2 linked regions of the Homo sapiens genome follow. The protein of the gene in region 1 purifies or fractionates together with the protein of each later gene. This does not show direct contact. Each region holds a gene or a part of one and is shown on either strand. Other genes may lie near its edges.

Region 1 (7,033 bases):
GCTTGGAGCCCTGGGATGGCCCTCCCAGCATTCGTTGGGCTTCCCCGTCTCTGATATTTGTCAGGCCCCTCACCCCGTGTCTGGCCTTCCGCCAGCTGTGGGGGCAGGATCAGGCATGTACTCCTTGGTGGCCCCAGCGCTGGCTCTGCACCCGATGCATAGTAGGTGCCTAGCAAGTGCATCTGGAGGCTCGTTCGATGGCCCTGCAGGGCTCTCTGGGTCTGGCGGGAGACATTGGGAGTCAAGGTCAGTGCCTCACACCATCTCCTCGGCAGCATGTGTCTTTCTACCGTTTGCCGTGGCCCTTCCCATGGCCAGTGACTAACAGCTTTCACGCACACTCTGGGGTGGGCTGAAAGGCCCCGGAAGCAGCCCTCTTTCCCTGGAAGATGGGAGATGAATGACAGCACCCTAGCTTCCTGCCTTCTCTGGGGACGCCCTGAGCACGGTCCGTTCTGTCTCCCAGGTGGCCCCAGCAGGACTGAGAGCAGCAGCAGTCCACAGCCATGACAACTCAACCACCTGCCCTGTGTCAGCTGCTGTCCCCTCCTTTATTCCTCCCCACTCCCCTTCTGCAGCATCCTGGAGTCACTTCCCGAATAAACCCCTCACATCACCTCCTTGTCTCAGGGTTTGCTTCTGGGGGGACCCAGCCTGAGACGGGATGAACATTCATTCGACAAAATATTGCGGCTGGGCGCAGTGGCTCACGCCTGTAATCCTAGCACTTTGAGAGGCCGAGGCGGGCGGATCACTTAAGTTCAGGGGTTCGAGACCAGCCTGGTCAACATGGTGAAACCCTGTTTCTACTAAAAATACAAAAATTAGCTGGGCGTGGTGGTGCATGCCTGTAATCCCAGCTACTTGGGAGGCCGAGGCAGGAGAATCACTTGAACCCAGGGGGCAGAGTTTGCAGTGGGCCGAGATGGTGCCACTGCACTCCAGCCTGGGCGACAGAGCGTGATTCCATTTCAAAAAACAAACAAACAAACAAAAAACAACAAAAAGCAAACATTGAGTGGCAGCATAGGGAGAGAGGTAAGTTTATTCTCATCAAGACTGGGAGGAAAAGTTACACAGCCTCAATTACCTTTCCAAAGGACAGGTACGGGTAGGAAAAGGATTAAGAGACAATCTTTTTTTCTTCTTGTTAACTTGTATTACATTTTTAAAAAATATAATGAATCAGTAATGAAACAAATAAAGAAACCCAATTGCAAATGCTGTGTGACTTTGGGCCAGTCGCAGACTGTCTCTAGGTCTCAGCCTCCGAGGAATGACATGGAGCTGGACCACAATTCCCAGGTTCTGGGGTTTGAGATTGACCTTACCTCCGCCTTGCCTGCTCCCCACAGGTTTGACAACTATTCAGCCAATGTGATGGTGGACAGCAAGCCAGTGAACCTGGGGCTGTGGGACACTGCTGGGCAGGAGGACTACGACCGTCTCCGGCCGCTCTCCTATCCACAGACGGTGTGCTGCTCCCACCTGCCTTGCAGTCCTGACCTTTGCTGTCTCTGTTCCCTCTGCTTGGGATGCCCTTCCAGCCAGCTCAGCCTGGGAAACCCTACCTCTCCCCTTAAGGCCCAGCTCAGGGAGTCTGCCTGCCTTGCATGTCCCAGGCAGAGAAGGGCTTCCTCTTGCACTCCCTCAGCCCTGCATTGGTTCCCGGTCCTCAATGTGCCCATCTTCCCACCCCATTGCCTCCTGGGCTCTGGCACCCCCTGTTTCCAGTGGTGGGGCAGGTGGATTCTGCACAGGGCCCCAGGAGGCAGCCCAGCATGGTGAGCCCTGGGAGTGCTGGGGGAGGGGAGAGGTGGAGGATGCCTGCAGGTGGCTGCTGGGTCCTCGCCCTTCCTCCAGGGTATGCAGGGAGGCGGCTAAGGCCGGTAATCAGATGGTGGATAGTATATGGATTGGAGTATGGACTCTAGAATCCCAGATCCTCCCCTCACCAGAGTGCACGTTGGCAAACTCTTTAACCTCTGGAAGCCTCACTTTCCCTGTCTGAGGAATGGGGCTACCAGCAGTGCTTGCTGCAGAGTGACATGTGAGGATAACCACTTCGCAGAGGCCCTGGCCTTTAGTGAGCGTCCTAACAAACAGCAGCCTCGTGGTAGAGGCGAGAAGGGTATCTCTGCTCTGCCCAGATCCTAAGTCCCCAGCATTCCCTGGGGTGTTCCACCCTCAGGGAGCCCCAAGCTCCACCTCTCGGTGGCTGCCATGGTGGGACACCTCTGGGCCCTCCTCACTAGCAACCTCGCTTGCTCTGTCCCCAGGACGTCTTCCTCATCTGCTTCTCCCTCGTCAGCCCAGCCTCTTATGAGAACGTCCGCGCCAAGGTGAGCTGGACAGGGTGGGCCTTGGGGGCTCTGGGGCAGGTAACCCTGAGGGACAGAGGGAGGAACTGGTGACTCTAGGCTGGTCCCTGGGGCAGCAGAGGTCGCATACAGAGAGGGTCCCCAGTGCCAACCAGGGCTGGCAGAGGGACTTGAGGGGGTAAGATTCAGAGGACCTGGGGTGGGGGGTGCTGCGATAGTTAGCTATACCCCCACTTTCCATGGCTGCATTCTCCTCCTCCCCACACAACCTCATGTCCGCCTCCGATTGTCACATAACCTCATGTTTGCTTCTTATGTCTGCACAAAACCTCGCCTCCTCCTTTCCTACAATCATGCGCCCCCTCCTTCCTGCACAACGTCGTGGCCTCCCCTCCCTGTGCCACCTCACGTCTCTCTCTCCTCACCGTCGTGCCCACCTCTGATCTTCTGGCAACTTGCTGCCTCTCCTCTCCCTACACCCTCACACTCCCTCTGATCCCCGCACAGCCTCGCGCCCCCTCTTGACCCATACAACCTTGTGTCCCCCCACCCACCTGCCCAGTGGTTCCCAGAAGTGCGGCACCACTGCCCCAGCACACCCATCATCCTGGTGGGCACCAAGCTGGACCTGCGGGACGACAAGGACACCATCGAGAAACTGAAGGAGAAGAAGCTGGCTCCCATCACCTACCCGCAGGGCCTGGCACTGGCCAAGGAGATTGGTATGGGCCTCGGGCTCAGAGGGGCGATCTGGCTGCAGGGGAGGCCCTGACTTGGCCTCGTGGTGTGATTGTAAACACGGGCTGCAGGGCCAGGCTGTGCAGTTTGAACTCAGCTGTGCTGTGCACTTGCTGTGTGACCTTGGGCGAGTCACGTAGCCTCTCTCTGCCTGTGTTTCCTTATCAGAAAAGCATGGGATAGTGATAGCTCCTGCCTCCTGGGGTGGTTGGGGGAATTCAGTAACTTATTCCAGGTGGAGCTGCCAGGGCAGCACCTGTGTGTGAGAAGCACTCTGTGTTAGTAGTAGTCGTCCTAGTAGTATGAGTAGTATCTATTAATAGATACTGAAAATAAGGAGGTGTGCTTTGAGCAGACAGAAGCAGAGATTGAGTGGGGGTGCTGTGGTTGCTTGGAGGACAAGTGGCAAGTCAAACTTGGGTGTTCTGGGAAGGCTTCCTGGAGGAGGTGGCGCTGCATTAGATCTAAAGGGTGACACATTTCCTTCCACCACCTTCTCTCCTCCCTTTCCCCACTCCCTTTGGTTTCTCAGCTCGACCCCTCTTTGCCTCCAAATCACTGGGCTGGAGAAATATAGTAACTTCTCAAGGTCACCCAGCTAGTAGGTGGCCCAGCCAGATTTGAAGGAAGGACAGCAAATTATTGGCTCACTGCTGGGGGGTGCTTCTTTGTAGTGGCTCAGGGCTGCCTGCATCAGGGAGGCGATGACCATGGGTCTGGCTTCATGCATGGTACCCAGGCCTGCTGGCTGTTCCTGTCCCTGTCCCTGGTAGGTCCCAATGTGTCTGTAGCTCAGGGATCCTTGCCCAAAAGCCCAAAACCACCAGCTGGGTTTGGTCATATGAGCTGTGCCCTCTGCCTCACCACAGGACTCTGCAGGCCCAGGGTTTGGCCCCCAAATTGAATCCACTAGACCTCCTCCCGCCCCACCGCCCCAGCCCCGCCCCACCTCCCCCTGCCGGAACTGGGAGGGCCCTGGGGACTCACATCTCTTCACAGGAAGAGAAACCGCAGCCACCACCTCCCTCCTTCTGTGACTAGCGTGGTGACACAGCCATCTTCCCCGGGGGCCTCAGACTATGGCTCACACCCTGGCTCCCTTCCCCTGTCCTAGGGCCACAGCTCCCCAGCCTGCAAGTCTTTCCTTTTAAATATCAAGGATTCATCCCTGCCTTCTCTTTCTGACCAACCAGCACCCCTCCAACCCCTGCCCCTGGACTCCTTCTATTCAGGGTGCAGCTCTCCAGCCTGTGGCCTGGCTGTCACTGACCTCTCCCTTGTAAAGCACATGCTTTGGGATCATGTGGAGGGTGCTGGAGGCCTGGATTCTGGTCCTGGCTCTGATACTGATTGGCTGTGTGACCTTGGGTTAGTGGCTGCCCCTCTCTGGGCCTCAGTCTCCCTCTCCACATAAGCTGACCTGGACAATCCCCAAAGGCCCTCTCTCCTCCATAAGGTGGTGACTCAGAGTTCTTGCCTTGGCCTCTAGCCAGTCTTTCCTGGCTGACCCTGCATGGAGCTGGGGCAGGGGCAGTGATTTTAACTGTGCCTCAGACCAGCTTAGGCCTAGGGGGAGTCCTGGGGGGACTGGCAGGGATAGTGAGGGAAGCAGCAACTGCCTCTGCCCACCTGGACTCCCCAGCCCTGGGATGACAAGTTTTGGGGGCAGCCCTGAGCCCAGCTGATAATCACAGCTGATGTGGACTGAGCACTTCCTGGGAGCCACTTCATTCTCACAGCAGCTATGACGAAGAGCTCTTGTCACCTTCACTTTACAGAGAGGAAACAGGCTCGGGGGGACATGTTGCTGGCTTAAGGCCACCCAGCCAGGATTCTGACAGGGGTGGACTGGCTCCCTAAGCCACAAAGCTGAGGGCCATCTGTCCTCCCTGCACCTCCACTGCCCCCACCGCCCCCTCACCCTCCTTGCCCTCTCTGTAGCTCCCCTGCCCCCTGCCTCAGCTTGATGAGCCATCGCATGGCAATGAGTCCTAGACAGATGGGAGACTGAGGCCCGGAGAGGGGGAACTGACTAAAGTCCTAGAGCAGTGAGAGGCCGAGCCAAAGTGAGCCCTGGCCCCCCAGCTCAGGACCCTTGTCCTGGGTGAGTGGGTGGCTGGGTGCCAGGGAAAAGGCAGTTGGTGGATGTGGGGGAAGTGGACGCAGATGTGGTCCCTTATAAGGAGACAGTGGCCAAGTGCCCAGTGACACCTCCTCAACACAGGGGGCTGTGGTGACCAGACTCCGGGCTGAGCTCAGGGCACCCTGCTCTTGCCAGCCAAGCCCCATGACAACCACTGCCCATGATCCCTGGTGGGCGTATATGCCTCCAGGTAGAGGGGAGACGCCCAGCATGTGACTCAGAGCGAGTGACATCCTCTCTGAGCCTCAGGCTCCTCGTCCCTGCCCCACCCTTCCTTTCTCCCCAGCACCTGGCCTCAGTGGGCTCCCCTGTTCCAGGGGCTGCCCCTCCTGCCATCCCGACTTCTCCCCCCAGCTCTGTGCCTTCGGGCCTTGGCTTCCCCACTCTGGGCCTGTTTCCTGGTCTGTGAAATGGGAACTCACCCCGGTGTTGTTGGAAGCACCCAGCTCAGTGCCTGGCACAGGGTAGGTGGTGACCAGCGTCCATCCCCTTCCATCCTGCCACAGAGAAGCAAGCGGGCTTTGGCGGAGGGCCCAGAGTTCCCCTCCCCTCCCTTCTCCTTCCTCTTGGTTCTGACATCGGCCCCCAGGCCTGCATAGCATCTCGGCAGAAGGGGTTTTGTGGTTTTTCACTTCAGGGAAACTGTGCAGCTTGAAATGGACATGGGAAGTCACACGGACTCTTTGCAGAATGTCATGGAACGCCGTCCCTGGGGGTGGGAACTAGGCCTGCCTTTCTCCTCATCTGTGCCCCGGGCTCTAGCCCTGAGGGGTCTTCATGTGGGAGAAGGCTGGGCCTCCCATGGCAGGACAGAGGAGCTCTCCAATGCCACTCCTCCCAGAAGGCCCCCAGCTGGGCCCAGGTTGAGGGAATACATCCAGCGTGTGAGTTTGGATGAGTCGCATACTCTCCAGGAGCCTCAGTTTCCTTGTCTGTAAGACAGGGACGGTGCTAAGGAAGGGGCTGATGATGTTGGGAAGTTCCTGGGGAGGGGGCCCTGAGGGCTTCAGGCCTCCTGGGGATTATTTGCAACCCTGGGAGAATCCTGGAGGGATGGGCAAGACAATTTTCTAGAAGGTGAGGCTCCCAGAGATTTGGTCACTGATGCTTGAGCCCTTTCCTTCACAGAAAAGCATCAAAATTCCCGCCCTCCTTCCACGGACTAAGGGCTATGTGTCCAAGAAAGACACAGACCTGCCCTGGAGGCCTTAGTCTCTCACTGAGTTCACGCTCGCTATTACAGACATGAGGAAACTGAGGCACGGTGACGTTAAACTCCTTGCTCCTGGTGACACAGCCTCCAGGTGACCCCACTGGGACTGGATGGCGGCCCCCAGAGCCTGGTGTTCAGTTGTATGGCTTGGGAGGGGGTGTACGGCATGGAGGGGTGTATGGCGTGGGAGGGGGTGTATGGGGTGGGAGGGGTTGTATGGCATAGGAGGGGTGTATGGCGTGGGAGGGGTGTATGGTGTGGGAGGCGTGGGAGGGGTATATGGCGTGGGAGGCATGGGAAGGGGTGTATGGCGTGGGAGGGGGTGTATGGCGTGGGAGGGGTGTATGGCATGGGAGGCGTGGGAGGGATGTATGGCGTGGGAGGGGGTGTATGGCGTGGGAGGGCTTGTATGGCATGGGAGGCATGGGAGGAGTGTATGGTGTGGGAGGGGTGTATGGCGTGGGAGGGGTGTATGGCGTGGGAGGGTGTATGGCGTGGGAGGGGTATATGGCGTGGGAGGGGTGTATGGCGTGGGAGGGGTGTATGGCGTGGGAGGCGTGGGAGGGGTGTATGGCATGGGAGGGTGTATGGCGTGGGAGGGGTGTATGGCGTGGGAGG
Region 2 (7,033 bases), on another chromosome or scaffold:
AGGCTCTTCCATAATTTCTCCAAAGCCCAGCGCTCTGCATATATCTTCCTAGTTCTTCCTTCAGAAAACCTAAATGATGCAAAATGATACCACAGTGTTGAATGTTTGATTTTAAGGTGGGTGGATTTAATAAGGAAAAGATGTTTTGCGTCTTTTTCATTGATCGCTTAGGCATTCTTGCTTTTTTGATTGATTTTTAACCTGGGTGGAGGGGTTTGAGGAGCTGTTTGAGAATGTGATGAAGGTCTTGGACCATATCTCTAGAAAAATGTACATACACAATACACAAACACAGGCACACAGACCCCCCCAACACAGACACACACACACACACACACACACACAGACAGACACAGACACACACACACAGACACACACACACACACAGTTCTACACATGATTTCAGGTGGGGAGGTCTCCCACCCTGTCCTCATAGATGCATTGGGCTTCCATGGACTTCATCTCTCCATTGCCTTGCTGTGATAAGTTGCACCTTCATAATGGAAACTCACTCTGATTCAGAACCAGCTGAACACTGGTTGCTGAGAACAATGCGTAGAAGGGTTGACTGCACAGGCCACTTCGTTTGATGGTTTGCATGTGGCATTCTGGAAGGAGCATGGCTCTGCCATTGGAGAGTTCTGATACAGAACCCAGGATCTGGTTTTGGAATAAATAACTTCTCCAAGCTTAGGTTTCCTCCTTTGTGCAATGGGTCTGACGGTCTGCCCTGGCAGGTGTGAGGTGATGATGTGGCAGGACGTGCACAGCAGGCTGGCACAGGGCCGTCCTCTCGTGTGTTCCCTGAGGGAACCCAATTCTGCGTGGCCTGTAGGACCTACTGGCTGGGCCTCCTAAGCTGGTTCTTTGTAGCTGCCCTGGCACCAGCACTGACGTGCCCATACCAGAACTGATCATGCCTACACTAGAAGTGACCATGCCCTACCCACAGTAGTACTGACTCTATCCACGCATTACTGACCCCTGCCCATACCAGTATTGACCCCACCCACACCAGCACAAACCATGCCCACACCGTCACTGACCCTGCCTGTACCAGCACGTTCCTAGGGGCCGGTTCAGGGATAGGATAAGGAGTAGTATTTGGGAGGGAGGAGCTTGCTTTGTTAGTGAGACATATTACAAAAATAACTAATGAGACCTTAAAATGCTTTTTACATTTTCTCCAGATGTCTTTCTGTTGGTCTTGAGGCACCCTGCTTACATTGCAGCCACTGCGGCTGTTTTCATGCAGTGCAAAAAGCCTCTATTTGTTTAAAGTCTGTTTACCCTGATGCTGTTGACAGGCCCAGTTGGTCCTCCTGCTTCACTGTCAGTGGAATTTGCTCAATAGATATTAAAAGGAAAAAATCAGTTTTCTGTATTTGTCTTCCCAGTGGTACAGTGCTTGAGCAAAACTCCAAAGACTAAATATGTTTGAGATGCTGGCAGACTCGTATCTGGCTTTAAGGTGTGTGACCTCAAGACTCGAAGTCTCAGGGTAGTTTTTTAGATGGAACATTTATTGGCAATTCAACTTTCCTCTTTAATTTGTAACTATAAAGATGTTCTCTAATTGAAATTTATCATTCTTTCAAATGACTCTGTTTCCTTTTTCATATTGTTAAAAAAGCCTGTTTCCATCGGCTTGTTAATTACAGGAATATAATCCTAACGGGTAAGAGGCACCTATGGTTAATTTTCTGCCCTTAGACCTGCGTGTTTTGTTAACAAGAAAGCCAGAACCTACTGCCAGATCACAACTCTTGATCTCTTTTGTTACACAGTTGTCTGTGTTCTTTAAATAAAAACTGTGGTAAAAATCATCTTACAATTTTGTTGGATTTGAGGAATCAGAGAGAATATTCCCCAAAATATGTACTGTTTATTTATTTATTTATTTATTTATTTTTAGTATTTATTGATCATTCTTGGGTGTTTCTCCGAGAGGGGGATTTGGCAGGGTCATAGGACAATAGTGGAGGGAAGGTCAGCAGATAAACATGTGAACAAAGGTCTCTGGTTTTCCTAGGCAGAGGACCCTGCGGCCTTCCGCAGTGTTTGTGTCCCTGGGTACTTGAGATTAGGGAGTGGTGGTGACTCTTAAGGAGCATGCTGCCTTCAAGCATCTGTTTAACAAAGCACATCTTGCACCGCCCTTAATCCGTTTAACCCTGAGTGGACACAGCACATGTTTCAGAGAGCACGGGGTTGGGGGTAACGTCATAGATTAACAGCATCCCAAGGCAGAAGAATTTTTCTTAATACAGAACAAAATGGAGTCTCCCATGTCTACTTCTTTCTACACAGACACAGTAACAATCTGATCTCTCTTTCTTTTCCCCACATTTCCCCCTTTTCTATTCGACAAAACCGCCATCGTCATCATGGCCCGTTCTCAATGAGCTGTTGCGTACACCTCCCAGACGGGGTGGCCACCAGGCAGAGGGGCTCCTCACTTCCCAGACGGGGCGGCCGGGCAGAGGCGCCCCCCACCTCCCGAACGGGGTGGCTGCCGGGTGGAGGGGCTCCTCACTTCTCAGATGGGGCGGCCCGTCAGAGACGCTCCTCACCTCCCAGACGGGGTGGCGGCGGGGCAGAGACACTCCTCAGTTCCCAGACGGGGTCGTGGCTGGGCAGAGGCGCTCTTCACATCTCAGACGGGGCGGCAGGGCAGAGGCGCTCCCCAGATCCCAGACGATGGGCGGCCGGGCAGAGACGCTCCTCACTTCTAGACGGGATGACGGCCGGGAAGAGGCGCTCCTCACTTCCCAGACTGGGTGGCCGGGCAGACACGCTCCTCACTTCCCAGACGGGGTGGCGGCCGGGCAGAGGCTGCAATCTCGGCACTTTGGGAGGCCAAGGCAGGTGGCTGGGAGGTGGAGGTTGTAGCGAGCCGAGATCATGCCACTGCACTCCAGCCTGGGCAACACTGAGCACTGGGTGAGCAAGACTCTGTCTGCAATCCCAGCACCTCGGGAGGCTGAGGCTGGCAGATCACTCACGGTCAGGAGCTGGAGACCAGCCGGGCCAACCCGGTGAAACCCCGTCTCCATCAAAAAATACGAAAACCAGTCAGGTGTGGCGGCGCGCGCCTGCAATCCCAGGCACTCCGCAGGCTGAGGCAGGAGAATCAGGCAGGGAGGCTGCAGTGAGCCGAGATGGCGGCAGTACAGTCCAGCCTTGGCTCGGCATCAGAGGCAGACCGTGGAGAGAGAGGGAGAGGGAGACCGTGGAGAGGGAGAGGGAGACCGTGGAGAGGGAGAGGGAGAGGGAGAATGTACTGTTATAGACTGGACAGATTTATTAGCCAGATGTTGCTTGTGTTTTTAGTTGGTGACTACATTTAGCCATCTGGCCAGGAAGTTGCTTAACCTTATTGTAGATAACGTCCATATGTTTGGTGTTCACATACAATAGAACATCTGTATTGAAAATCTTCCTGTGGCCTCATGTAAGGACTCGAAGTAGAAGGGGAGACATGCAGGGATCCCTATTGGGGTCAGTGGGGAGTAAAAAGGTGGTGGATAGATCTCTCCTCCAAGTTTTCTTCCCTCTCTCCTTCCTCAACTCTCTGATGATGTCACAACTGCCAGCTATGTGTTTGGGTTGATGGATGTATATGTGATTGCATATATATGTGAATGTGTGTGTGTGTGTACATATGTAGTATGCCTTAGGTGGGGTGCAGTGGCTCACGCCTGTAATCCCAGCACTTTGGGAGGCTGAGGTGGGCAGATCACCTGAGGTCAGGAGTTGAGACCAGCCTGGCTAACATGGCAAAACCTCATCTCTACTAAAAATACAAAAATTAGCCGGGTGTGGTGGCACACACCTGTAACCCCAGCTACTCGGGAGGCTGAGGCAGGAGAATTGCTTGAACCCGGGAGATGGAGGTTGCAGTGAGCCGAGATCGCACCACTGCACTCCAGTATGGGCAACAAGAACGAGACTGTCTCAAAAAAAAAAAAAAAAAAAAAAAAAGTATGCCTTAAAACTTTTCATATTTTACATAATAATTAGTAATACATACTTCACTTGGGCCTTGTAGATCTGTAAAACTTCTCCTTGCAAGACAAAGCCACTGTTGATTGCAATGGAAATAAAAATTGAGGATTTTTTTTTTTTTTTTTTTTTTTACTTCTCCCAAGATGACACATTTTAAGCTAAAGAAAGCAGCCTCCAAGAATTTTATATTCCTAATATTTTGGGCAAGCCCGAGTTTCTAGGTTGTTTTTACCTGCCCAGTTGCTGTGGTGGAAGTTGTGCTAGAAAATTCAGCCTCCTTGGTCTATGTCTGTGAACTTACTAAATTCTTGTTGTTCTAGAATTCTAGATTTGGACCTGGTGGTTAGAGATGAAGATGGGAATATTTTGGATCCAGAATTAACTAGCACGATTAGTCTCTTCAGAGCTCATGAAATAGCTTCTAAACAAGTGGAGGAAAGGTTACAAGAGGAAAAAGTAAGTTTGACTCTGTCATATGCCATTCACGTTTTCTCAGTAATAAGTTTTCAACATTAGTAAAGTATCAGTCAAGCCCAAAATTGTCACTAAGAAAGAACCTGAAAAGGAGTAGCTGCAGAGTTTGTGTCCTACAGTCATGAGTGGAATGGAGCCTGGTGGCACAGGATGTCACCCATGACATGAAAGGGGGTCGGACAGCATTGTGTTTCATCGTAGGAGACAGGATCCTAATGATGTTGATTTTGTGTTCTCATCTGTCAAATGAGACACAAGACTTGATTCTGCATTTCCTCTCGGATAATGGTAGGCAGGTCATGTATTCCAAGCTCATTGAGGGCAGAGAGTACATGTCTTATTGTCTTTTCGTCTTCTATGATCTTTAATGGTATCATGTATGCATTAGCCTGTTCTCGCCTTACTATAAAGAAGTGCCTGAGACTGGGTAATTTATAAAGAAAAGAGGTTTAATTGGTTCATGGTTCTGCAGACTGTATAGGAAGGATAGTGGCTTCTGCTTCTGGGGAGGCCTCAGGAATCTTATAATTATGGTGGAAGGCGAAGTGGGAGCCAACACTTCACATGGCTAGAGCAGGAGGAAGAGAGAGGGTGTGCGGGGGGGTGCTACACGCTACACTTTTAAACGACGAGATCTTGTGAGAGCTCACCATCATGAGGACAGCACTGAGAGGATGGTGCTAAACCATTCATGAAAAATCCACCCCATGATCCAGTCACCTCCCACCAGTATATATATATACACACACACACAGTAGATACTCAGAAATTGACTAATTGAATCATCTGTTAATTCAACAAGTACTTACTGAGCATCTACTGTGTACCAAATGTTGAAGACATAATGATACATGAGACAGATGTCCTTGGAGGGTTTAGTCTAATGAGGGAACAAAAAATTAAATAACTACACATATATAATCATTATTTTGATTTATTGGATGGACACCTGAAAGTTTTGTATCTCTGAAAATACTCAGCACAGCAGTTGCACAGGATACAATTTTTTGTCTGTTGTGTGAATGCATGATTTAAGAATGTGCAGGGGAGATAAGAAAGTGACTGCACCAAGGCCTTTGCTGGGTTATGCCAATGAGTTATTACAATTTTCTATTCTGTAGGGAATAAAGAAAGCAAGTGTCAGTGATGAGTGTTGCTGGGGTTGACTTTCTGTTTCCTTCCATACACAGTCTCAAAAGCAGAACATAGATATTAACAGACAAGCCAAGTTTGCTGCAACCCCTTCTCTGGCCTTGTTTGTGAACCTCAAAAATGTGGTTTGTAAAATAGGAGAAGATGCTGAAGTCCTCATGTCTCTATATGACCCTGTGGAGTCCAAATTCATCAGGTGGGTGACATTTCTTGGCTGCCGTCTTTCCTCTTTGGTTAGTGTTAGGAACTTGGGATCAGAACCACTGAAGCGTCCCATTCATGCTGAGAGGCCTTGGATGAATGGCTGCTGGACACGAGCAAGCAGCCGAGTCAAGAGCTGTCTTAGACAGTGTGATGGCAGCCAGGTTGGGCTCTGGGTCAGGGTGAACCTTCTTGCGTGTAGATTGCTATTTGCTCGTAGAGTTATAGCAGTTGCAGGTACACTCTGGCCGTATCTTAAGAGTGTAGCTGAAGATTGAAGTAATACTTTGTTTCCTAAGTTGTCTTCGTAAGATTTTATATATCCTGGTCCCTCAAATATCACTATTTCCATTTTTCAAAATTTGGTTTCTATGAATGCCATTTCTGTGAGTTTTGTCTTGTTTTTTCTGCAAGATGATTGGCTGGAATACATCATTTAGAATGGTGCCTGCCACATACAGACTGTCAGTTAATATTTGTTAAATGAAAACACTGTAAGTCTATTTTTTCCTGCTTAGCCTTCAGTATAACTTTCTCTTTGCCCAGATGGAAACAATGTGGTTCAACTATGTATGAATTATGTGTGTGTCTGTGTATATGTTAAAACTCTAGTATCTTCACTTGTATTATTCAAAATTTGAAAACTTAGTGTATGAATGATACAGAAAAATACGAGTGGATTTTATTCTCACTTCTGATAAAGACTTTGTTTCCTCTTGACATAGGATGCAGTTTTTATTTTACAATGTATTTGGTTTGTCATAGGTTTTGAAATAAACATGCATTGTGCTGAATTTTATAGTATTGTCATTCTAAATGAACAAATAGGCTCTTAAAAAAAAAACCAACTTAGAAATACCATTTGCAAGTAGTTCTATTACAGTGACAACCCAAGACATTGCACATTAAAACTTGGCAAGGTTTTTGTGCTGTGGATGTTAATTGATGAGTAGCTGTATGTGATACTTTTGATATTTATAAACTCAATAGTTGTCTGTATAGTGCACGTACATGGTATTAATTATGAAGCAATGTGGATGTACATTTGGTACCCTGTTATTTGGAAAATTAACTTGCTTTTATTTCTCCATTTTTCAAGTGAGAACTACCTGGTTCGCTGGTCCAGTTCAGGATTACCTAAAGACATAGACAGATTACATAATTTGCGAGCCGTGTTTACTGTAAGTGCACCCAAAGA

What was found. The genes of interacting proteins can lie anywhere in the genome.
Region 2: the proteins of RAC2 (region 1) and DOCK1 purify together in Homo sapiens (affinity purification with mass spectrometry; 2 studies listed by BioGRID and IntAct, with this or other methods). This does not show direct contact.

The regions. Positions count from the first base shown.
Region 1 is NC_000022.11:37,227,241-37,234,273, reverse strand, and holds part of RAC2 (ras-related C3 botulinum toxin substrate 2), read left to right. Parts: intron 1-1,355; coding exon 1,356-1,473; intron 1,474-2,279; coding exon 2,280-2,342; intron 2,343-2,883; coding exon 2,884-3,043; intron 3,044-6,330; coding exon of another isoform or gene 6,331-6,368; exon of another isoform or gene 6,369-6,535; intron 6,536-7,033. UniProt on the Homo sapiens protein: Plasma membrane-associated small GTPase which cycles between an active GTP-bound and inactive GDP-bound state.
Region 2 is NC_000010.11:126,992,420-126,999,452, forward strand, and holds part of DOCK1 (dedicator of cytokinesis protein 1), read left to right. Parts: intron 1-4,328; coding exon 4,329-4,464; intron 4,465-5,672; coding exon 5,673-5,830; intron 5,831-6,934; coding exon 6,935-7,016; intron 7,017-7,033. UniProt on the Homo sapiens protein: Involved in cytoskeletal rearrangements required for phagocytosis of apoptotic cells and cell motility. Along with DOCK1, mediates CRK/CRKL regulation of epithelial and endothelial cell spreading and migration on type IV collagen.